Regions from separate parts of the Homo sapiens genome. Here all the other regions are linked to region 1. The links come from fine-mapping of genetic effects on gene expression. A gene starts in region 1. Each other region holds a variant in brackets. All regions are shown on one strand. Distances are between the middles of the regions.

Region 1 (8,174 bases):
CAATGTTGGCCATGCTGGTCTCGACTTCCTGACCTCAGGTGATCCACCTGCCTCAGCCTCTCAAAGTGCTGGGATTACAGGCGTGAGCCACCGTGCCCGGCCTGCTTGCCTGGTTTCTAATGTTTGCTGTAATTTTTCTCCTTGTTCTTCTATAGGTAAGGTATTTTTCCCCCTCTGGCTTCTCTCAAGGTTTTTCTTCATCTTTGGTTGTCTGCAGTTTGCATAGGATATGCCTCGCTGTTGATTTTTTGGTATTTATCCTGCTTTATGCCTCTTAGATTCTTGGATCTGTTGTTTTGTATCTGTCATGAATTTCAGAAAATTCTTAGCCTTTTTTTTTTTCTTTGAGACAGAGTCTCGCTCTGTGGCCCAGGCTACAGTGCAGTGGTGTGATCTCGGCTCACTGCAACCTCTGCCTCCTGGGTTCAAGTGATTCTCCCGCCTCAGCCTCCCGAGTAGCTGGGATTACAGGCGCCCGTCACCATGCCTGGCTAATTTTTGTATTTTTAGTAGAGACGAGGTTTCTCCACGTTGGCCAGGCTGGTCTCGAACTCCTGACCTCAGGTGATCAGCCCGCCTCCACCTCCCAAAGTGCTGGGATTACAGGCATGAGCCACTGTGCCTGCCCTTTCAGCCATTTTTACTTCAACTATTTCTTCTGCCATTTTTTTCCCCTTCTTCTCTTTCCCATTTTCAAGTTATCTGTATTTACATCTTTGGAAATTGTTCCACAGTCCTTGGATGCTCTAGTGTTTGTTTTTGTAACTTCTGTTTTTCTCTTGGTGTATCAGTTTGAGAAGCTGCTGCTGACGCATCTTTAAGCTCACTGGTGTTCTCCTCGGCAGTCTCAGTCTACTTGTCAGCTCGGCAAGGGCATTTCTGTTACATTGTTTTTGACTTTTAATATATCTTTTAATTTTTTTTTTTTTTCTGAGACGGAGTCTCGCTCTGTCACCCAGGCTGGAGTGCAGTGGCGCAATCTTAGCTGATTGCAAGTTCCGCCTCCTGGGTTCACGCCATTCTCCTGCCTCGGCCTCCCAAGTAGCTGGGACTATAGGCGCCCATCACCATGCCCGGCTAAATTTTGTATTTTTAGTAGAGATGGGGTTTCACCGTATTAGCCAGTATGATTTCGATCTCCTGACATCGTGATCCGCCCACCTTGGCCTCCCAAAGTGCTGGGGTTACAGGCATGAGCCACTGTGCCCGGCCTTCATTTTTTTTCTTAAAGTGGACCCCTCTCTGCTTCTATTACCCATTTGTCCTTGCCAATGTCCTTGTCAATATTCAGAGATGTTTGGTCTTGATGTTGTCAACTTTTTCCACCAGAGCCCTTAACATATTAGTCATAGTTATTTTAAATTCCATGTCTGGTAATTTCAGCATCTGTGTCATGTCCCAGGCTGGCTCTGATGCTCCTTCTGACTGACTTTTTTTTTTCTTTTTTGAGACAGAGTCTCGCTCTGTCACCCAGGCTGGAGTGCAATGGCACGATCTCAGCTCACTACAGCCTCCGCCTCCTGGGTTCAAGCGATTCTCATGCCTCAGCCTCCCAGTAGCTGGGATTATAGGCGCGTGCCACCACGCCTGGCTAATTTTTGTATTTTTAGTAGAGACGAGATTTCACCATGTTGACCAGGCTGGTTTCGAACTCCTGACCTCGGGTGATCCGCCCGCCTCAGCCTCCCAAAGTTCTGGGATTACAGGCGTGAGCCACTGTGCCCGGCTCCTGACTGTGACTTTTCTTATCTTTTTTTCATGCCTTGTTGTTTTTCTGGAAAGCCAATCAGGATGTACTAGATAACAGAAACCGAGGTAAATAGGTATTAGGGTGAGGATTTATGTTACTCTGGCTGGGGCTGGGCTGTGTTTGACATTTTCTGTGGCTGTAGGAGCCCAAACCTCATGGCTGTGGCCCAGGCTCTGTGTCACTTCCACCTCTGTACACTCATCTGGAGCCCTGTGTTGATGTGTGACTATCACCCAGTTCTGAGTCCCAGCTGGGAAGTAGGCGCCATCGTGCCCTCCGATTCCATCCTGGCTCTGCCTATTCCCAGCTGTCTGTGCAGGAAGCCGTTGCAGGCCGCATTTCCCACCCTAGCAGCCCTCTGCTAGGTTCAGCCAATGAAAGCCACAGGTGGGAGTTGGAGGGGAAGTGGCAGGGAGAAGCCGGGGTATTTCTCCTCCTCTGTCTGTGCAGAATCTCTGACAGTGGCTATCTCCAGCTGTGGCCAGACAGGCCTTGTGAGGGTCCAGCTTTGACAAGGTGACCATAGCTCCTTGGCTCCAGTAACATCTGCTCTTCCTGCATCAAGGACCTGGGGACTGTTCCTACTGTTGCTGATCTCAAGGTTACTTCACTGAGCCCTGTATGGCTTCTTAGCCTCTTTGGCTTCAAGTCCCTGCGTTAAATTCCCCGTGTTTCAAATACTCAGAGATGTTTGGCTGTGCGGAGACCCTGACTCTTACACTGCACCTGTTCAGGCCAGAGCCACAGACCTCTGAGTGCTCCAGCCCTGCCGCATCTCATCCACCCCCAGCTCTGCCAGGAGCATGGGCCCAAAGACAGAAACATGATCCCCCAGGACAGTCCAAAGAGACCTGCAGAGGACGGATGTGTGCGTTGGGGCCATGAAGATGGAGTAGGAGCTCACTGGACAGAGAAGATGGGGAAGGACACTCCAGGGAGAAGCAAACGCTGAGGTCCACTTGAGAAAAATGCCTGGGTGGTTTTGGTGCTGTGAGATTCTAGGGTAGGTGAGACAGTGTGTGTGTGTTTGTCTGTGTGGGTGGTTTTGGTGCCATGAGATTCTGGGGTAGGTAAGACAGCGTGTGTGCGTCTGTATGTGTGTGGGGGGGTGGGGCGGGGTTGGGTCTGAATCTCCAGCGGGGGCAGCGGAACAAAGGGCTGGATGCCCATCCCAGGAGGTAGATTCATCAGTGCTCCCTATGCGAGAGTGGAAGTGGGGAGCCCCAGTGGGTCCTGGGCTGCAGGAGAATCCGCTGCCCCAGGAGCAGAGACTGGGAAGAAGCCCACAGTAAGGGCAAAGGGTGGACTGCGGAGACTGCTCCGTCCTCCCTCCCCACCCCTACGCCAGGTTTCACTTCTCCCTGAGAGTCCTGGGGCAACACCCCCTGTTCTTTCCCTCGCACCCCCATTTTTAAAATGTTACGTGGGAGCTTTCGGGGACGGGCTGCGGGCATCCGTTTCCCTAGCCCAGTGGGAGGTGGAACCGAAGCCCAGGAGTCCAGGCCTCTGGCCCTGCGCCTCCCTGGCTAAAGAGCGCCCTGTGGGGAGGAAGCAGGGCCCCAGGCGGAACCGGGAAAACACACCGGGGCTTTAAACAGACCGGGCCACTCCCATCGAATTTGGAAAGCGGTTAAAAGAGGTCGTGCCGCATTCTGCGCCGCGTCCCTCTTCCTTCAGTCCCGCCGAGTGTCCCCGACCAGAGGTGACCTCCTAGAAGGGGAGGTCCCCAAACTCGAGGCCCTGCGTGTAGGGAAGGGGAGCGCCCGCCCCTTCCCTGCCGCCGCGAGCGCCCCGGGAGGGGACCGGGGCTGCCGTCCCTCCGCCTCTTCCCCCGCGGGGCGTAGCGATGGCCCGGGCCAGGGCCGGGGCGCTGCTGGCGCTTTGGGTGCTCGGGGCCGCCGCGCATCCGCAGTGCCTGGACTTCAGGCCGCCCTTCCGGCCGACGCAGCCGCTGCGCCTCTGCGCGCAGTACTCGGACTTCGGCTGCTGCGATGAGGGGCGCGACGCCGAGCTGACCCGCCGCTTCTGGGCCCTGGCGAGCCGCGTGGACGCCGCCGAGTGGGCCGCGTGCGCCGGCTACGCGAGGGACCTGCTGTGCCAGGTGAGCGGGCGCGCGGCCACCGGGCGGGGCGGGGCGCGGGAGGCCGAGTCCTGGAGCAGAGATCGGAACCCCGCGGGGGCGAGGGCCAAGAGTGGGCGGCGGACTCGGGAACTCTAAGCCCCAACAGGGAGTCATTTGGCACGGGGCGGGGAGACCGCGCATCCCAGGACGACTCTTGGCTTTGCCATTCATTAGTTTTGTGACTTGGGCCTTCTCGGGGCCTCAGTTTCCCCTCCTGAAGCAGGAAGGACGGACGGACGGACAGATGATGTCATCATTTCCTCAGAGGTTGGGGGCTCTTCTGCCCCAGTCCCCTGGAGTCGACCCCTCAGCGTCCCACCCCGAGCAGCTGCACCCTTGTCGGGGTACCAAGGTGGAGAGGCATCTGTCCCGGTCAGTGCTCCTTTGTGTTGTCCCCGGGGCAGTGAAAGCAGGGGGCCCTGGCGTGGGCGTGGTCAACGTGTGGCCCGGGTTTGTTGAGGGGGTTGGGGCCACTGTCCCCCACGAGCGTCTCACCCCCATCCTGATGCCCTTGCCACTTCCGCCACCACCTCTGTGGGTGCTGTGCCCTCTCCTGGGGATGGCGCCCTGGCCTGCAGAAGCTCTCTCAAGACTGAGCGACAGCTCTTTGTTGAAGCCCCTGGGCCCCCCATCTTCCCTCTGAGGGTGGAGCCCCTGCTTCTGTGCACACCTGGTGGTGCCACCGCTATTTGTTTTCCTCTTGTGGGAGTCTGAGGCCCCAGGGCCTGACCACACCCAAGTGGGCAAATGTTGCCTGGCTGAATGCAGAAATGGAGCAGGACGGGCAGCCCCAAGGCATTCCTGCCTCAGCATCTGGGCAGTGAGAGGCCTGGGGTGGAGAGGCCCCAGGGGCCAGGGCCGTGTCCCAGCCTTCGGCCAGCAGGGGCAGGTGGTGTGGGGAAGGGCAAGAAGGCTGACTTGGAGTTGGAGTTTGATCCTGGCTCTGTCACTTCCCCAGCTTCGTGACCTGGGCAGGTCACTGCTGCACCTCACAATATCTTTAAAATGAAGCTGAGTATGGTGGCTTATGCCTGTAATCCCAGCACTTTGGGAGGCCAAGGTGGGCAGATCACTTGAGGTCAGGAGTTCGAGACCAGCCTGGCCAACATGGCGAAACTCCATCTCTACAAAAATACAAAAATTAACTGGGCATGTTGGGGAGCTCCTGTAATCCCAGCTACTCGGGAGGCTGAGGCAGGAGAAGCACTTGACTCTGGGAGGCAGAGGTTGCAGTGAGCCAAGATTGAGCCACTGCACCCCAGCCTGGGCAACAGAGCAAGACTCCGTCTCAAAAATATAATATAATATAATATGATATGATATGATATGATATGATATGATATGATATGATATAATATAATATAATATAATATAATATGATATAATATGATACATAAAATAAATAAAATAAAACCTTAACCACCCCCCTGGGTGGCCATGCAGATTAAATGCCACATACTAGGGGCTCGGTAAGTGTTTGCAGTTGGATTTCTCGAGGGCTTCCTTGGCCCTCACTGGCTGCCCAGCCCTGGGAAGGGTCCAGGTGAGGCTTGGAGCCCGAATCAAGGAAGACTCAGAGGCAGGCAGGGACTTGCCCAGTGGTCGCACAGCCCAGCGGTGGTTGAGGTGGGGACATGGACCACACTCGCTGAAGCGAGCTCATATCTTAGGTGGGAAGCAGTAGACTCTGGGAGGATGAGGAGGGGGCCCTGGGGAGCTCCAGAATGCAACAGAGGGTGGGCTGGCCACCTTTAGGTGGGCTCTGCTGGACTCCCATGCTGTACACCTCAAGGGCACGGGAATGGTCTGGCCAAGCGTCTGCCTCCCTCACCAGCCTGGGGGCTCCTCAGGACCAGGTCCTTTGGTCTCCCTACCCCCATCACATAGCAGAGTTCCTGCATCCATGCCACATTTGTCTATTGAGCACTTGCTATGTGCCAGGCTCAGCACGGCAGTGAGGTGGGCAGGTGGATGGAGGAAGGGAAGGGTCAGTCCTGATGCTGTCCCCTGGCAGGTTTCTTGGGAAACTTCCCAGGACAGCCTGGCTTTAAGCAACCAGCAGTTAGCAGGAGTGACCACTAACACTTCAGCCCAGGCGTCTCTGAGAGTGACCTCATGTCTGGAGTGAGCTTAGAGACGGCGGCTGAGGCTGGGTTATGGTTTCACTGACGGGGCCTCCTGGAGCATGCTGGCGGGAGGACCATGCTCTCTGCTAGCCAAGGCAGAGTCTGCATTTGGCACCTCCTGATTTCCACACGGGGAGGTGGTGGAGGTGCCTTATTCATAGGTCTCTGTCAGTGTGGAGGCACTCAGGCCTTCACACCTGCTTTGGGGGGATGGGAGACTCTTTCCTGAGGCTTTGCTTGTCCAGTAAGTGCCTGTGTCCTCTGGAGGAGAGAGGACAGCCATGGCACGTGGCATCCCCAGTGCATCTGGTGTGAGCTTCCACATCGCTAACCTCCCCTGTGACTGGGGTTGCCTCTCTAAGCCACTAAAATCATCAAAGCATGGTTTCTGATGGAGATCTCCATGAAATGTATTCTATGGGCTCATGTATTCAGCAGGCTCTTCCTGAGCCTGTTAGGAGGCAGCCCTGTGCTGGATGCTGGGCCCAAAAACAGTTGGCAAGTCACAGGCCCAGTCTCAAAAATCCCCTTCATCACTTCAGGAGACTGACACACACAGGAAGGTGCCAGAAATTCCTCAAGGAGTGTAGGAACAAGGCCACATACCTCAGGGAAGGCTTCCTGAATGTTGGTTGCATGTTGATAGCTCATTATTTACTGAACAAACACATACATCTTCTCCATTTGTTCCTCCCAACAACTCTATGAGGTTGGAATTCCTTTCCCCTTCCACAGATGAGGACATAGGCACAGAGAGGTTAAGGAGCTTGCCCACGGTTAAGAGCAGTAAGAGGTTAAGGAGCATTCCCCATGGGGAATGTGTGCGCTGGCTCCAAAGCCATTCTCCTAACCGCTTTGCCACACTGCCTCCCTCCTTGAAGCCCCACTGTGTCCCACAGTCCGTGGAGTGGACAGACATGCAAAGAGATAATGAAGTCCTAGCCAAGCTGACTGGCTGGAGCGCCCCTGGCGACGGAGCAGTGACTGCTGTAGAGAACTCACCCTGTAAGCTACAAGATTCAATGGAGTGAGTGTCGTGTCTGAGATATGGACAGAGTGCATTGGGAGCATCCATAAGGGCCAGGGATGGGACAGTCAGAGCCCTGGGAGCATGGAGGACAAGAGGAGACCTTTGAGTAGGCCTTGAGTCATGAATAGCAGTTTGCCAGATGAGGAAGTAGGTGAGAAGCAAATATCCGATGGACAGGACACTGTGCAAAGGCTTGCTCTTTCAAAAAATGAACGGTGGACATAAGAAACCTTCAGGACCCAGGGCCATGAGTCACGAGTGTCAGTGACATGGGGGTGGCAAACTCTGGGCAAGATGGGGGCCCTCCGCCCTGCACTGAATGGCCCGGGCGGCTGAAGCCTGCGATACTGGGCTGGTTTCCTATGGCCTTCCTGCCACCTGCCCCTAAACACACTGAGGCCAAGCTGCGGATCATCCTCTTGCCAGCAGCAATCACTATGTCTTCTTGTCACTTCCTAGCTCTGGACTACCCTGGTCTGGGCACCACATTTACGTCGTGTGTAAGTAAGAGTACATAGGCCACGAGGAAGCATCTGCTGTGTGATTGGGACGCACGGATGCCGAGGTCTTCGGCCTGGCTCCCTGAGGGAACTTTTGCTCCCTCTGTAGTTCTGGATTGGGCTTTGGTGAACGGAGGGCTCTCGTTGCCTTCCAGATGTCTGTTCTGCCCCTCACTGCGTCTCTGGAACCAAGATGGTGCCTGGTACAATCTCTGCTCAGTAAATTCTTGGTGAATGAAATGTTGCTGACTAATCTGGAAAGAACACCAGTCCAGGCATCATGAGGCTTGGGTGTGAGCCCTGGTTTGGCTACTTCTTGGCACGTGGCCTTCTTTAAGTCTCAGTTCCTCATCTATAAAATAGGAGTCAAGCCGTGTACGGTGGCTCATGCCTATAATCCCAGAACTTTGGCGGGCCAAGGCGGGAGGATTGCTTGAGCCCAGGAGTTCAAGACAAGCCTGGGAAGCATAGAGAGACCCTGTCTCTGCAAAAAATAAAAATGAAAATTAGCCGGGTGTGGTAGAGCACGTCTGTGGTTCCAGCTACTCTGGAGGCTGAGGTGGGGAGGATCGTTAGAGCCCAGGAGGTCAAGGCTACAGTGAGCTAGGATTGTGCCACTGCACTCTAGCCTGGATGACAGAGAGAG
Region 2 (8,174 bases), 34 kb after region 1:
CTGCTGGAGTGCCAGCACAACGGCGTGGGCACCCACAACTGCGAGCACGACGAGGATGCGGGCGTCGTGTGCAGCCACCAGAACCCCGACCTGTAGGCAACACGCCGCTGCCCCAGGCCATCCCGCCGGCGGGGGAGCCTGGCAGGGGCCGCTCCGCCCTGTGTGCGCCCAGCGGGTGCACACGTGTTCTAGAGTGAAGGGGGTGCGGGTGTGTGCTGTCCTGGGGACATGTGTGAGGCGCTGCAGTGCATGTGTGTCCTCTGCAGACCCAAGGCAGGAGTGTGTGTTGGGGGCGGTGTGGGCTCTGGAAGTGCATGGTCCATCATGGGCGGGAGGAGTTCCTTTCTTACCTCCAAGCGTTTCAGACACCAGCAGGAACAGCAGCCGGGCTGTGGGACCCTGAGGAGGGAGGGCAGCCAGGCTTCGAGGACGGACATGGCCCCTGGCTGTGCTAACAGAGGCACAGCTTGCAGACTGAGGGCGGTGGGGAGAACCAGGCTTGTCCTGCCCACAGCTGGAATGGAAGGTGCAAGAACAGCCGGAGGGTGGCCTGAGGAATGTGGCCCGGACAGCATGGCCTGGTGCCCGCATCCCCCCCACCCCCTGGCAGTCAGAGGCGCTGGAGAGAACCGGAAGGCATCCAGTGGGGAAGGGAAAGCCTTCTGGAAGGTGGGAGCAGGGTGAGCTGCAGGCCTGGGGCCCCACTGGAGGGGCAGGCTGCGTGGAGGAGCCAGCACCTGCTCAGGGAGGATGGCTGTGAGGACTGGATGACCTCCAAGGCCGTATGCTGGAGAAGCCACTCAGCAGCATACTCAGTCCTTGTGGGTGCTCCTGGGATGGGACCAGCCTCCTCCAACCCTGAGGCCTGATTCTCTCTTGCTCTTGGGGCAGAAGCCACCCACACTAGCTGGGCAGAGCTTTCACCCTGGCCCTCCAGTGAGTCGGTGGGCCTCCACTACTTTCAAAGCTGTGTTTGGGCCCTGGGGCCACCTCTGTCCTTTCCATCCCCATCCCTGCTCAGTGTAAACCCAGGAGACCTGATTCCTCCAGCCCTACCTCGGGGCTGACCAGGCTGGGGGTCCAGTGAAACTACTGACACTTTTTCACCCAGGGCTATGCCAATAATGTGGCTGTTTACACACCACTTTCCTGCCTCCTCTCTGACCTGCACCTGTGTGGGAGCCGGGGTGGGAACCAGGAGAAAGGGGTGAGGCCTCCCGCTTCCCACCTGCATCACAGGTGGAAGCTCCTTCACTCCAGGGATGCTCGGCCCTGGCTCTGTGCCAGGCCGCAGAGGGGCACTTAGTATGACTGCGCTCAGCCTCGGATGGGAGCACGGGTGGGGGGTGGGTAAGCAGATGAGTCACCAGGCAGTGAAGACAGGATGTGGCCCATGTCGGGGGTTGGAAGAGGTCTGGGTGGGGCACCCAAACCCAACCTATGGGGGGGCTTTGGGAGGGGGTGATGCTGTGCCAAGTTCTGGGAGCTGGCACCAGGGGTGGCTGGGCAGGCCTTGGGGCAGGCATGAGTCTGGCAGGGTCTCCTAGCTGCTAGTATAGGGTCTCCTAGCCACTAGTATAGGATCCTGGGCTGCAGCAGAAAGCTTTAGGTCACTGTCTTGGACTCCTCATACTCTGTGCTTTACAGAATGGGAAACTGAGGCACACAGAGGTTAGATATCTTAGGGCACCAAGCCAGGGAAGGGAGAAGTCAAGTTTGAATACAGCAGCTTAGTTTAGAGTCCCCGCACCCTAACCACTGCCCTCCCCAGCTACACTATGCCTGCAGAGAGCGGTGTGCTGGGGCTCCTGCCTGGTGTGGGAGTGCCAGCCTGGCTGGGAAGCAGCTGATGGAGATCCCTGGGGGCTCCTCTTGCCTGGCAGGTGCCCCCGCTGCTGGCCTCATGCTCCTCTCGGGCCTCCAGTGGCCCAGGGGAGGTTGAGTGGGCATCTTCCTGGGATGCAGGGGAGTTCTGAGCTCTGACGCCGGGCGTGTTAGGAGATAGCAGGCCGTTAATGACCATCCCAGCCGAATTCCTCACTGTGCAGATGAGGAAGTGAGCTCAGGGAGGCTGAGTGTCCCAGGCCTGTTGCCAGATGAGGCCACGCTGAGACTGGAGCCAGGGAAGGTGCAGCAAGCCTTGAGGCCCTCAAGAATGCAGCCGAGCCAGGGCCCTGCTTGCCTGGCCCCAGAAGCTGTTTTGCTCAGAGCTGGATTAGGAGGGTTGGCAAAGGGAGCTCTGGGTGCGGCCTCAGGCCCTCCAGTACTTCTCTGGGCAGTTCGGGCTTTGGCCTTCAGTCTTCCAGGCCAGGCGCTCTTCCTCCCCAGCCTCCAACTCATCACCTCTCAGGCCCCAAACCAGGCCTGGGCTAGGCTGCAGCCTGCCTCCTGGGGACTCACTCCACAGTCCCCAGGTCAGTGGTCCCCAACCTTTTTGGCATCATGGACTGGTTTCATGTAAGACAATTTTTCCATGGATGGGGGTTGGGGGGATGGTTTTGGGATGAAATGTCCCACCTCAGATCATCAGGCATTAGATTCTCATAAGGAGTTCACAGCCTAGATCCCTCGCATGCACAGTTCATAGTAGGTTTCATGTTCCTATGCGGATCTAATGCCACTGCTGATCTGGCAGGAGGCAGAGCTCAGGTGGGAATGCTTGCTCCCCACACTACCCTGCCCCACTGCCACTCACCTCCTGCTGTGTGGCCCGGTTCCTAACAGGCCACCCATCAGTACTGGTCCGTGGCCCAGGGTTTGGAGACCTCTGCCCTAGGTAGTAATAAGAGTGGACAGCTGTTATATGTAAATACTTGTTCCCCGATGCTGGAAAGAAATAGCACTAAAACATAAATTTAATTCTTTCAGCAAGGCAATTTTACTTTCTGCAGAAAGGGTGCTCATCGCAGATGGAACAATAGTGAGAGGACACCTGAACAAAGGAGGGAAGCAATTGTTAGCCCTTATGCAGTTTGTCCCTGCTACTGTGTCCTATGTCCATTGGCAGAAGCCAGACCGCACAATCTAAACTAAAACCCGATTGGCTGTTTAAAATTTTTCTAAATAGGTAAAAGTAATGGAAGGATAAAGGAAAAGAGGAAGTTGCTTACGAAAGGACTTAGAAAAGTAATAATATTCCCAAATAAGGAAGGGGTATAGGCTGTGAGCTGGGACATGCCTGTGAGCACGTCCAGCACAGATATCTTGGTTAAAGTATAAGGACATAGAACGTACTATGTGCCTGTGAGCACGTCTAACAGTTACATAGAATAGGGCTTGACAAAGAGTTATTAGCATAAAGCAAGGAGGTTTGAAGGAAGTTCGTCTTTAAAAGAAACCATTATTTCTAACACTTACGATTTATTCTTTAACAAGAAGGGAAACTTTCAAGAGGAACTTTTACTTTCTACAACAGCTGACCTCTGCTGAGCGCTTACTACATGCCAAGCACTGCTCTGAAAGTTTAACATACCATTCACTCATGTAATCCTCATATTAATGCACATTTACTCACGTGGAAGCCGAGTTCCAGGGCATTTGTCACTTACCAAATGTCACATAGCCAAAATTTGAATTTGAGCCCAGGTAGTCCAGCTCTGGGACCCTGCTGTGGGCCTTCCTGCTGGGCCACCTCAAGGGCATTGAAAGCCAGCCCCACCCCACTGGGACACAAGTTCAGAGAAGGGCAGAGCTGGCTGCCTGTCCAGTGCTTCTTTCACTCCACCACCTACAGCTGGCCGCTGAGGGAGCATTCACATGTGACTCTGTCCCCAGGGACTCCGATCTTGCCTTAAAGTCCTCCAGGGCCTCTGAGGATGGGGGCACAGCCTTCACCCTCACCCCCTCTAATCCAACCTCTAGTCAATAGCCAGGATCAGATTCTCAGAGAGGGGCTGCCCTGCCCAGTGCCACACAGCTTAGTGCTGGAGCCTCAGGGTCAATGCTGCAGGGGTGGCCCAGTGTCCAGGACTGTGTTCAAGACATCAGTCAGAGGTCACAACATCCCAGGCCCTAGACTGAGCCTAGGGGTCACCATGTTGATACCTTAGAAATGTTTGGGAGGTTCAAGGAAGCTGGAAACTGGGTTCCAGTCCTGGCTCTGTGCCTCTCTGAGTCTCATTGCAAAATAGAGGTCACCAGAAGGATTACTGGATGAAAAATGAGGTAGCATTGCAGACGTGCATGGCACGTACACTCTAGGTTGCTTCCTAGACAGAAAGCTCAGTTCGAGGCTGGTGGCATCCATGCTGGCAGCAGCCAACTGTCTGCGACAGAGTGAGGAGGGGCATGCCACGTGAAGGACCAGCATCAGAATGACATGGGAAGAAACTCTCACAATAGCAGAAGAAAGAGCTCCTTCAGCCTAACATGTAGAACTCAAGTCTTCTTGTCGCGCTTCTGTCCCCTCGCCCCTCCTCCCCCACTGAGAACTAGCTTTTACTGAGCAGTTATTACATGCCAGCTACCTCGGGTGTGTCAGCTCATTTAATCTTGACAACAGCTCCACGAGACACCCTCAATATCACTGTCCCTGTTTTCCAGATGAGGGGACAGATTCCTAGGGTGTTATGTAAGTGGTCCCCGGGGCTTTAGAGGCAGGTTTGCACCAAGGCCCATTCTCCCAGAGCCGGATCCTTCTCCTTCCCTGGGATACAGCACCTCCACCCTGCCAGGCCACCCATGTAAAGGCAGCCAATTCAGAGCCACCTCTTATGCCTGCATCTCCCCAACAATTCCTGCTGGGAAACCACTCCTCGTATGGTGTCATCTACACCAGTGGGTTTCAAGCTTGAGAAGAATCAAGTTCTACAGGGCTGCTTAAAACACAGGTTGCTGGGTCCTGTCTCTCAGAGTTTTTGACTCAGTCTTGGTTGAGAATTTTCAGTTCTAGAAGCTCCTGGGTAATGCTAATCCTCCTGTTCTAGGGGCCATAGTCATTGTCCATACTGGTGCTATCCAATAGAAACATAATGTGAGCCAAATAGGTAATTTAAAATCTGCTTGTAGCCATGTTAAAAAAGTAAAACAGGTAAAATTAATTTTA[ATAATATATT/A]TTATTTAACCCAACATATTCAAAATATTATCATTTTAACAGGTACCTATATATAAATATCAATTTTTTTTTTTTTTGAGACAGGGTCTGGCTCTGTCACCCAGGCTGGAGTGCAGTGGTCCCATCACTGTTCACTGCAGCCTCAAACTCCCAGGCTCAAGTGATCCCTCCACCTCAGCCTCCTGAGTAGCTGAGACCACAGGCATATGCCACCATGCCTGGCCAGTTTTTTTGTTTGTTTGTTTGTTTTCATTTTTTGTAGAGAAGTGGTCTCCCTATGTTGCCCAGGCTGGTCTTGAGCTACTGTTCTCAAAAGATCTATTGCCTCCACCTCCCAAAGTGCTGGGATTACAGTTGTGAGCCACTGTGCCTGGTGACCTTTTTTTTCCATTCTTTTTTGGTATTAATCTATGATATCTGGTGTGTATCTTACACATAGCACATCTCAATTGGACTAGCCACATGTCAAGTACCAGAAAGCCACATGTGGCCAATGGCTGCCACATTGGATAGCTTACTCCAGACCCTCCAGTGAAGGAGCAGGTGGTTGGCCACGTGCTTCCAGGCAGCGCTGCCCACCCAGGAAAAGGGCTTTCAGCCCTGGGACCTGGAGCCTTGGTATGCAGCCTGTGTTCCCTTACCTGATCACAGGATAGCTGGGAGCATCAAATGAGGTGGTGATGGGACAGCTGTGGGCTTGGTGCCTAGGGAGAGGGGAGACTGTTGGCTCACAGATGGGAACGGCAACTGCTCTGGAAGTGCTGCTCCTGGGGTAAGCCATGGTCATGTTGAGCCAGAGATCACTGGTGCTGCCCGATGTGTCAGAGAAGACGTATGCCCACTCCTCTCCTTAGCCGTATTTGGAGAGGTTCACGCTGACCACTGCTCCCTGATGCTGCTCTACACCTGCTTTCTGTGGGGCTCCAGGCTGTGCCTGGAGCTGTTCAGGACCTGGCTCTTCCCTCAAGGAACTGTGACAGTAGGTAGTCAGGCAGACATGAGCAGGGCAGGAGAGGGCCCTCCCCCAACGAGGAATGTCAAGTGGCCATCAGATGATGGTCAGGCAGTTGATAAACTGCTTCTCTCAAATAATAATTGGTCGCAGCCAGTGCCAGGGAGAGGCAGTCTCCCAACAGATGGAAACACCTGAAGCTGGTGATCAGCTTCCCGATAAGATCTCAGGAGCTGGGCGAGTGGGCTCAAGCATGCACACTAAGAGGCAAAATGGCAGCGATTAACTGGTAGATGACCTTCCTCTAGGAACACCGGTAAGGGAAAAACACCTCAAATGAGCGCGCACATAACTTCAGTAAACACAGCTGTGCATTCGGCCCCTCCCAGGTGCTGACAGGCCACCGCGCACGCAGACAGCCCGCCCCAAGGGAAGAATCAGGGGCGAAGAGAGATGCAACCCCCCGGGAGCATGCCAACCTACAAAACCCCGAGTCAAAGGTCAAGCCACACACTTGCCTCTCTCAAGTCACCTGCTTGGCCCTCTTCTAAGTATACTTTACTTCCTTTCATGCCTACTCCAAAACTTTTTTTTTTTTTTTTTTTTTTTTTTTTTCTGAGACGGAGTCTCGCTCTGTCACCCAGGCTGGAGTGCAGTGGCGCAATCTCGGCTCACTGCAAGCTCCGCCTCCCGGGTTCACGCCATTCTCCTGCCTCAGCCTCCCCAGTAGCTGGGACTACAGGCGCCCGCCACCACGCCCAGCTAATTTTTTGTATTTTTAGTAGAGATGGGGTTTCTCCGTGTTAGCCAGGATGGTCTCGATCTCCTGACCTCGTGATCCGCCCGCCTCGGCCTCCCAAAGTGCTGGGATTACAGGCGTGAGCCACTGCGCCCGGCCTCTAAAACTTTTAAATACATTTTCACTCCTGCTCTAAAACTTGCCTCTCACTCTGCCTTACGCCCCTCAGTCGAATTCTTTCTTCTGAGGAGGCAAGAACTGAGGCTGCTGCAGACCCATATGGATTTGCTGTTGCTAACAGTACCATTGTTCCAGGGGTCTGGAGAGACAAGGCAAGAGAAAGTCCTCTTCAGACAGTGCGATGCACTGTGTAATCTCAGGGAGCCGTTCCACAAACTGGATACTAAATGTGATGCCGTCACATTTCTTTTCTAGCTAACCACCCCAACCCACCTTCCAGTGCGCAGGAATCCACACCCTCCTTCTTGCAGCCTCATCCTCCCTCCAAATTGCCCTCAAGCCCCGGAGCTTTCACAGCCCACAGGGGACCTGGTGGCTCCGTTCCACACCTCACCCCAGCAGGGCCAGCCTGAGTTACCCTGTGGGCCTGCGGCTGCCTGTCACCGCCGCCACACGGGGGCGCCATAGCAAGCCAACATCCCCGAGTCCAACTGGGCGGCCGGGCCAGGCGCCGGGGGGATGGATGCTCTGCTGCCCACCTGTCCAGGCTGCGGTGGCCCCGAGGGCAGAAGTCCCGCCTCCTCCGTGCTGGGCACGGCTCTTAAGACTTGGCCGTCTCCGTCGCCCCTCAGCCCACACCCCTAACAGCCATGTCCCATGTCCCTAACTATACCTGGGAAGGCGGTACCAAGGTCCCCTTCGTTTTCCAACCCCCAACCTCTCCAGGACTGGCTCAAGCGTGGGGCAGGGGCATTGCCTCTTCTCAGAAACCCAGCAGCATCTACACTCCCTGGGCCTCTACCTCCAGCCCGGGGGACCTTTACCTGGGCTAGGAGTGGGCACACCTGGCCTTCCCCTGCCACGACTTTCACGCTGGGTGGTCCCTCGGGATAGGAATTGGGAACTAAAACGCCCAGAATTGGCCTCATCTTCATACGGGATGGGCAAGGAGACGCGGGTTACGACAGAGGGGGAAGCCCTGGTCATTATTTCGAAAATACCTTCTCCTCCGCTACCCCCGCCTCCCCGGCACATTTCCCGCTTTCCCTGGAGGGCGGACCCAGATTTTCATCCCTCCAACTCCAACTCCTTCGGGCCTGAGCCAGCGCCTCAGATGGGGCTTCGCCTGGTCTAGGAGGGTCCGCAGGCCCCCGAGTCTCTGGGAGAACAGCCTCCGGCCACGCCGTGCGCTCTCGGTCGCAGACACAGGCGTCCCTGGGTCCCGCAGGATCCTGCCACCAGCCCGCGGG
Region 3 (8,174 bases), 24 kb after region 1:
TGGCCTTCCAAAGTGCTGGGATTACAGGCGTCAGCCACCATGCCTGAACTCAGATAATTTCTTTATGGCCAGTTTTACACAGAAAGGTTGGGGGAGAGTTACAATAATATTTTTAGGTTCTATGACTGGCTTTGGGGGAAATGTGTGCTGGTTTCTACGATCTGCCATGGGAAAGAGAGATTCTAGTTTCTATGGCACCTCGGGGGAGAACAGGACTGAGAGACGGGAGGACAGGCGAAGGTCAGAGAAAAACTTTTGCTTCGGAGGCAGCTTCTGAGGCCTTCATTTTGGAGCATTGTTTTCTGAGTCTCAACAGCAGCCCTGGGCGGGCTTGGCAGCATCCGCAGGGGCTCCCTGTGTGTGCAGAGGGTTGGGGGCTACAGCTCCCAGCAGATCACGGCTGGAAGGGGCCTTGCAGTCTGCCTGGTCCAGCCTTGTCATTTTACCAATGGGGAAACTGTGGCTGACTATGAACGCCTGGTTATGGAGGAGGGGCACCATGCCCAGCCTGGCCCCTGGACACCTCCCAGAGTGGGGCCTTAAGGTCGGTTGGCCAGATGAACCAGGGAGTTCCTCAAGGGGTTGGAACAGAGGAGACCAGGGCTGCTCCTGGTGGCTCACTCCAGAAAGAGGCCCAGAGGGGAGTGGACGGCCCAAGGCTGTGTGGCCAATTTAGGGCTGTGCCCATGGACTTCTCAGCAGGGACATTCCACCCGGGGACCCCCAATGCTGCAGGCTGCATCATCACCATGTGTGCCTACAGCTCCTCCCCCGACCTCCCCAGTGGGACTGGTGCCCCTGGGTTGGGGGGTCAGGGGCCATTGACCACTCAGCGTACTGCTCTCCTCATCCCCCAGCCCCATCACAGCTGGGTCTACCCCGGTTACACAAGTTACCCCTCAAGTGCCTTCCCTTTGCACTTCCCAAGTTTCCTGTGCCTTGCTTCTCAGACCCCACCCCCATGCAGCCCTCCCTGACTGCACCTGTCCCCAGGGATATGCTTTCCTCCAACCTATTACCAAGCTGTCTGTCTCAGCCTCTCCGTGGGGAAACCCCCCTCCCTGCCCCCAGTCCAGCTGAGCTCTCTGCTATCCTTTTACAAGGACAGAGGTATTAGCATGGCTGAACCCTCAGGATGAGCCATGTGTGCCTTGTGTCTGGGCTCCCAGCCACCATGCATCCAATATTGGTGTGGGGCTGGGGCAGCAGACTTTCCTGAGTTCTGGTCCTGGCTTAACCATTCACTAGCTGTGTGACTTAGGACAAGTCACTTGACTTCTCTGAGCCTCTTTTTTTTTTTTCTCAGCTGTGAGGTAGGAATAATGCAGCCTATTTTCTGGTCATAGGTGCCCCTGGCAGCAGGGGTTGGGAGGGAGGATTGGAGTGGGAGGAGCAGGGAGAACCCACGTTCCCTGAGACAGTCCTCAGCACCAGGGGCTCAGAACTCCAACGGTTACATTTTCAGCGCAGCTCTGAGATGGGGAGAAGTTGAGGCTTAGAATGGGACCATCACACAGCTGCTGGAGATCACAGGGGGCCAAGCAGAGGGGCTAGGACCTACACTCCCAGCCATGTACTCTGCTCCTGCCTGGGAGGTGCTTGTTGTCAGCAGAGAGACACCCTGGCCTCGAGGACCTGGCAGGGCCCAAATCCCGGATGACGCCTGCAATCATAGCTAGCTAATGCTGATGAAGCACACGCTCTGCGCTCTTCAGTCCTTATAACAGCCCAATGAGGCATGCCCATTTTAGAGATGAGGAAGCTGAGGCTCAGAGAGCCACATGTGCCTGCGGGTCCCCTGGAAGCAGTTGGGGAGCTGGGCTGTAGCCCCCTCATGTGCGCCCAGAGGTGTGTGGGGCTGGGCATGAAACCCAGGTAGGTGACAGGGGTGGCGCTGGGTCACCGGGAAAAGGCAAGAGCAGAGATCTGAGCCTGGGTGGGTCCAGGCAGAGTGCCTGACACCCGGAAGACCAGGCTCCAGAGGCCCTTGGGTACAACCCAACTCCTCACCCAGCCTCACTTCCTCTTTCTGGGGACTGGACAGCTAGACTGAGCTGGGATGCCTCACGTGATGGCTAGCTGGGGTTGGGGTCTATTTCCAAGCCTGCAGGGAGCCGGGTGGTGAGGCGGGGCTGGCTGGGACGGTATTCCAGGTGGGGGTCTCACTAGTCACTTTGTTCTGTCCAAAGGGGAGCTGTACTTCATGTCGACAGGGGAGCCGAGTGCCACAGCTCCACGCGGAGTTGTCTACAAAATAATTGACGCATCCAGGTGAGTCCCAGCCTCCAGGACAGGGAGCTCCTGCTGTCTGTCAGGCCTCTTAGCTCCACGGGCTTGTCCCCTCCGCCTCGCCCTCAGGTGGGTGGTATTAATCCCCATTTTCAGACAAGAACCCTGAGGCCCAGAGAGGGACGTGATTTGCCTCAGTTCCTCCGGCAAGGGGCAGACCCAGGATTCAGACCCGGGTCTGCACGCCTCAAAGCACAGGTCTATTAGGATAGGAGGGAGCTGGAGAGGTGACTGGGGCCGCGGGCCGAGGCTTCACTTGGCTTTCTTGCCTGGCCCGCCCTCCCTGCGTCTTCCTCCTGTCTAGCAGGCCCCTCATTCCTCATTTCCTGGGCTGCCCCTGCACCCCCACACCCCAGCCCCCAATTTGCCTCTGTGATGCCTCCCAGATGACACCCTGATCCCTGTGTGTCCCCGCCCCGTGCCTGCCCTTCCTCCTGTGGTCCATCTTCCACTGGGGAAAACACATTGGGGCTCCCTTCGCCGGCTCCATCTCCCCGGCTTCCCTTCTAGCTGTAAGGCCAGAAGCGCCATGCCCGGCTATGTCCCAGCTCCTTCCGTGTGCAGCTCATTGACGTCTCAGCCGTTCATTTTACAGTGGTGGAAATGAGCACAAAGACACGAAGTCATGGGCCTGGGGCCCAGGGCCAGGGTGGGGCCCAGGCCACTGGCTCCAGAGCCCTGCCCTAACCCCTTGGCTGTGTGCCTTCACCTCACCCTCTTCAAGCACCTTCCCCAACCCACGTTGCCCTCCAGGCCTCTGTCCAGCCCTTCCTCAGCTCTCATCACTCAGACTTGGTAATCCCTGGGCTACACGACTGACTCTCTCCCAGCTGCTCTGGGAGTCTCAGGGCCAAGCCTGTATCTCTTCACTCTGCAGAGGCCGCCCAGGTGCTGGGAATGGCACGGAGCAGAGACTCAGGAACACTTGATGAATAAATGAGTGATCAGCTTTCTAAGCTGCTTCTCAGCCCTTAGATTTTCGCTTCTCTGCTGGCTTCCACAGCAGTCTGAACGTCTCTTCAACACTGGGTACGGACACAGCTTGTACTTGTCTCTAACGCAAGGCCTGAGGTTGCACTCCGAGAATCCACACCTTTGGCAGACTCTAGGAGTCCCCACTGTGTTTAGTTACCCTAAACTTTGAGACACACCAGGTTTGGGAAAATCCTGAAACAAGCTGGCATGTTTCACGTTCTTGGGAGGCAGATGGGAGGAGTTCAAGTCCAGCCCGGGCAACACAGGGAGAACTTGTCTCTAAAAAAATTAATTAATTTTACAAAAAGAAAAATTCTAAAACACTTATTGTGCTTAAAATCTTTTACACTGGGCTCAGTGGCTCACACCTGTAATCCCAGCACTTTGGGAGGCTGAAGTCGGAGAGTTTCATGAGCCCAGAAATTCAAGACCAGCTTGGTCAACATAGCAAGACCCCATCTCAACAAAAAATTAAAAAATTAGTCTGGTGTGCTGGCGCACATCTATAGTCCCAGCTACTTGGGATGCTAAGGTGAGAGGATCACTCGAACTCAGGAGGTCGAGGCTGCAGTGAGCTATGATCGCACCACTGCCCTCCAGCCTGGATAACAGAGCAAGACCCTATCTCAAAACAAAAGACATTTTAGAATAGTTTCAGATTTACAGATAAGTTGTAAAAACTACAGTGTTTCCTGTATGCCCCTTACCCTGTGTCCCTTATTATGAACACCTCACATTACCATAGTGTACATGTCAAAATTAGTCAACTAGTATCAGTCCATCACTATTAATTAAACTCTACAACTCCAGTCTTTTACTTTTTTTTTTTTTTTGAGACGGAGTCTTGCTCTGTCTCCCAGGCTGGAGCGCAGTAGCATGATCTCAACTCATTGCAACCTCTGCCTCCCGGGTTCAAGTGATTCTCCTGCCTCAGCCTCCCGAGTAGCTGGGACTACAGGTGCCTGCCACCATGCCTGGCTAATTTTTGTATTTTTAGTAGAGATGGGGTTTTGCCATGTTGGCTAGGCTGGTCTTAAACTCCTGACCTCAAGTGATCGGCCCACCTCGGCCTCCCAAAGTGCTGGGATTACGGGTGTGAGCCCCCACGCCCAGACTCCACACTCTTTTTCAAAGGATGTTTCTAGTTGTTCCCCAATGCCCTTTTCCTGTTCCAGGATCCTGTGTTGCCTTTAGTGGTTGCGTCTGCTTAGCTTTCCCCTGTTTGTGTCAGCTTCTCACTTTCCTTGTTTACCAGACTTTTTTTTTTCTTGTTTAAGAGCACACATAAATTATTGACATGACTTTTTATCAAATAAAACATAATCACTTCCTGCTTCCATCCCTTCCTTCTCATTTCCCTGAGGTCCCATCCATTGTTATCTATGCAGCGCCAGGATTTATGTGGTTGTATTTGGATCACACGCAGACTTGGTTCTTTTTCCTTCATTTATGCCCATTTTGTCTAAACGTTGCAAACATCGCCCTCCAAAAAACCATTTCTAATGGCTGCTTGATTTTCTGCTGAGTC[A/G]CTATAACCCATTCCTTGGAATTTTAGGTTATTTCCAATTTTCAAAAAAGAATGCTCCTCTGAGGAAATGCTACATATACCAAGTGAGTGCCTAATTCATGCCAGATGTTGCCTTAGAGCCATCATCTTCGGTTTTTCCAATCCCGTTTCCCTATTGGCTTGTTGTCCCCATGTCATAGAGAGGGACCCCAACGAGACTTAAGGAGTTCTCTCGCTCACGGTCTTGTGTTAGGAGCCAGAAGTGGGCTAGATTCCTCCTCCCGCCCTGACCCTTCTCCCTTCATTCTCCTGTCTTGGAATAACTGTTTCTTTGCACCCACACATATTACACAGAGGTCCCATTATAGTACATTTGGAAAATGAAATAAATGGGGAGTGGAGGAGGTAGGGTCAGGTCATCTGTTACTACCCACACGTAACCACTGTGGCATTTTGGGGTGGATATCCTACCCTTTTGCATAACAAAGACTTTTAATGCAATTTCCTTAAGGAACAAAAGCCCCACTGGGTCTGTCTGAAGTGTGTGGATGTTCTCTGGAGGTCAGAGCAAGAAAAAAACCTCGCTTTTCCTGCAGCTTTGAGAAGCGTATGTGCCTGGTTGTGTTTCTGCAGCCTCTGGGGACAAAGACCCTTGTCCCTCTTTTGTGTCCCTCTTCGGCCAAGCCTGTCTGGAGGCCACTCCGTGTCACGTGGCTGCTTCACCCCTTGGCCTTTCCACTGGAATCCTATTGAAGTCGTGGGCCCACGTGGGTCTGTCCTGGAATGGGGTCATTCCCAAAGAATCACAGATCGACGGCCAAAAACTAATTAAAACGGAATTCCATTCCCTATTGTGCCCTTAAAAATGTCAAAGGAGACCCAATTCCTAGCCCTGGCACCCTTCTCTGACTCTTTTGTCTCCCTGCTCTCTCACACCCCACATGCCAAGGCCCCAAATCCCTCAGCTCTGCCTCCAGGCACAAGGCTTGCTTTCCTTACCACCCCCGCCGCCCCCGTCCTTTAGGTGGTTCCAGGCAGAGGAGCCTCTCAGATCCTGCATCAGAAATCCAGGAACCAGAGGGGCAGAGAGAGACCCTCCTCAAAGGCTGTAGGGCTGGTGGGAGAGGGTGGCGGGCAGGAATCAGGCTGCATTTCAGGAATCAGACGGCAGGCTGTGGGAGGAGAGAGACTGGCATTTGTTCACACCCTGAGGACAGAGTCCATGCTCTGGATTAGAAATGTCCTGGGAAAGAGTAAGCCTCCAGCCCTGGTGCTATTCCAGCAGAGGCTGAGCGTGCAGCCGGTAGGCTGTTATAGGGGATTTATGCCCTGGAGCTCTTAGAATCCTGGGGGCATGGAGTGGGCAGGGAAGCTGCAGGCCACACAGTAGGTGCATGGTGAATGGCCGCCTGTTACTATCGTTGCTGTTCATACCTGCCTCACTGTAGAGAAAAGGCACCCTCAGGGTGGGCTCCCAGGGTGAGACTCATAACCTCCTGTGTGTCGTTGGCAGGCGGGCACCACCTGGCAAATGTCAGATCCAGCCTGCTCAGGTGAAGATCAGAAGCCGTCTCATCCCCTTTGTGCCCAAAGAAAGTAAGTGCCTGCCAGTGGGACACTGAGGGTTGGGGGAGAGATCCCGCAGCCCACAACGGCTGCCTTTCCAGCCAGACTCGGGTCTTACCAGCTGGACCTAGATGCCCCTCTTCAGCCCCTGTGCCTAGCACTGTGCCTGGCACACATTAGACATGGTGGTAAGGTGGATGGGACTTTAACTAAACTGGGTCTTGCTTGATTGGTCACAATTCCTTAAACCAAGAGAGAAATAGCTGGTGCCAGGCAAGGTACTCTGTGAGTTCTTGGGAGGGACAGAGAAAGAGGATGTATCTGTGTGTAAGCAAGGGAGACCGGAAGAGTTGTTTGTGGGAGGGGCTGGCATATGGGCTGGGCCTTCATAGATTGTTGACAAGCCTGATGAGGAGAGACGACAGAGCAGGGCCACAAATGACTGCCCATGGGGCCTGGGACTGGGGGAAGGGGATGCCCCAGGCTGGGGCTGTTCCCCTGGGCCCAAGTTAGGTGGGAACAAAGACCCTGTGTTGCCAGGTCTTCCAATTCTTCAGAGAAGCAGAAAATCCCCCCATCCACTCATTCACCACGGACACGTGCCCTGCCCTGGGGATACAGCACACGGCGAGACACTGCAGTCCTCGCCTTCTCAGCCTGTTAGGTACAACCTCCCAATTCAAAGTGTTGGCGACTAGTTCAGAATTTTAAAAACCACTCCGCGAGCCAAGGAAAATATTTCAGCAGGCCAAGTGGGCTCAGCAGGCCACCCATTGGCAGACTGGGTGTGTATGGGGGTGGGGAGGGCAAGAAGAGAGGGAGGCTAGGCACCTGGGCTGAAGAGGTACCCGGGTAGAGGGGGAAGGGTCTGAGCTCAGTGATTTTGGAAGTGAGTTCTGGCCACAGTTGGTTTCAGGGCTTGGTGAGTTTTTCATTTACTCATTCAGCAGTTTCTGGCACTTTTGTTAGTTACTGGCTCCATGCTGGATGCCAGAGCCACAGTGAGAAGTCAGACTAGGCCCTGTTCTGGCTGGGACGGACAGAGATGTCATTTACTGTCCAAGGCCTTGTGATCGAAGTGTGTGCCAGGTACCGTGAGGACCCACCCAGAACAGTGGAGACTGGGGTTGGGGGTAGGGGTTCCTGGAGTCTGAAAAGAAGAGGAAGGGTGCACCAATAGGGGGTTGCACTGAGGGGGGTGGCAGCTAGGGGGATGGCACTGAGTGGGTATGGCACTGAGGGGGGTACACCTGGAGGGGGTGCACTGAGGGGGATGGCATGGAGGGGGGGTGCACTGAGGGGGGTGGCACAGAGGGGGTGGTGCACTGAGGGGGGTGCACCTGGAGGGGTTGCACTGAGGGGGGTGGAATGGAGGGGGGTGCACTGAGGGGGTGGCACGGAGGGGGTGGTGCATTAAGGGGGGTGGCATGGAGGGGGGGTGCACTGAGGGGGGCGGCATGGAGGGGGGGTGCACAGAGTTGGGGGATGCACCCAGGCAGGTTGCACGGGGGGGTGCACCTGGGGGAGTGCACTGAGGGGGGCTGGCACCAAGAGGGAGGTTCACTCAGGAGGGTGCACCGAGGGGGGTGGCAGTGCAGGCAGAGGGAACAGCAAGAGCCACAGTGGGAGAGGTGAGGCAGCCTGAGGAGCAGGAGGTGGGGGCCAGGGGCCAGGGTGCAGGGACAGGGAGCGCCTTGCCCATGTCATGGTGCTCTGGGCCCTGGCCTGTGCTTGGCCTTGTGCTGAGAGGCCCTTTCTCAGCTCTCTCTCAGTGGTTTTCAAAGTGGGACTGGCTGAAGTGGGGCGGGATTAAAGAGGTTTGGCCTGGTGGCCCCAG

Alleles and levels. Positions count from the first base shown, and alleles are read on the strand shown. Sizes are in standard deviations (SD) of each study's normalised expression.
In carriers of allele ATAATATATT in region 2, the expression in testis of the gene that starts at base 3,518 in region 1 tends to be lower than with A alone (moderate effect, 0.59 SD a copy in GTEx).
With allele G in place of A in region 3, the expression in fibroblasts of the gene that starts at base 3,518 in region 1 is lower (moderate effect, 0.75 SD a copy in GTEx).

Evidence for each region. PIP is the estimated chance that this variant, and not a neighbour inherited with it, causes the effect.
Region 2: its variant is fine-mapped to the expression of HHIPL1 in testis (GTEx, PIP above 0.99).
Region 3: its variant is fine-mapped to the expression of HHIPL1 in fibroblasts (GTEx, PIP above 0.99). The same link has a PIP of 0.9 or more in caudate and prefrontal cortex.

What each region holds. Positions count from the first base shown.
Region 1 is chr14:99,641,612-99,649,785 of GRCh38, forward strand. HHIPL1 (HHIP like 1) reads left to right here and starts at 3,518. Exons shown (of 9, transcript NM_001127258.3): 1 at 3,518-3,851. The coding sequence starts at 3,597.
Region 2 is chr14:99,675,531-99,683,704 of GRCh38, forward strand. It overlaps HHIPL1 (HHIP like 1), which reads left to right. Exons shown (of 9, transcript NM_001127258.3): 9 at 1-5,039. The coding sequence ends at 96. Among named protein-coding and RNA genes, the nearest start is that of CYP46A1, 4.7 kb to the right of the region's middle. RefSeq lists enhancers at 1-126, 690-1,253, 1,254-1,816, 7,263-7,332. The variant ATAATATATT/A (reference allele first, on the strand shown) is at 5,045.
Region 3 is chr14:99,666,033-99,674,206 of GRCh38, forward strand. It overlaps HHIPL1 (HHIP like 1), which reads left to right. Exons shown (of 9, transcript NM_001127258.3): 7 at 2,190-2,271; 8 at 6,285-6,367. Among named protein-coding and RNA genes, the nearest start is that of CYP46A1, 14 kb to the right of the region's middle. RefSeq lists enhancers at 1,687-1,846, 3,045-3,586, 4,528-5,127, 5,128-5,729, 5,730-6,329. The variant A/G (reference allele first, on the strand shown) is at 4,793.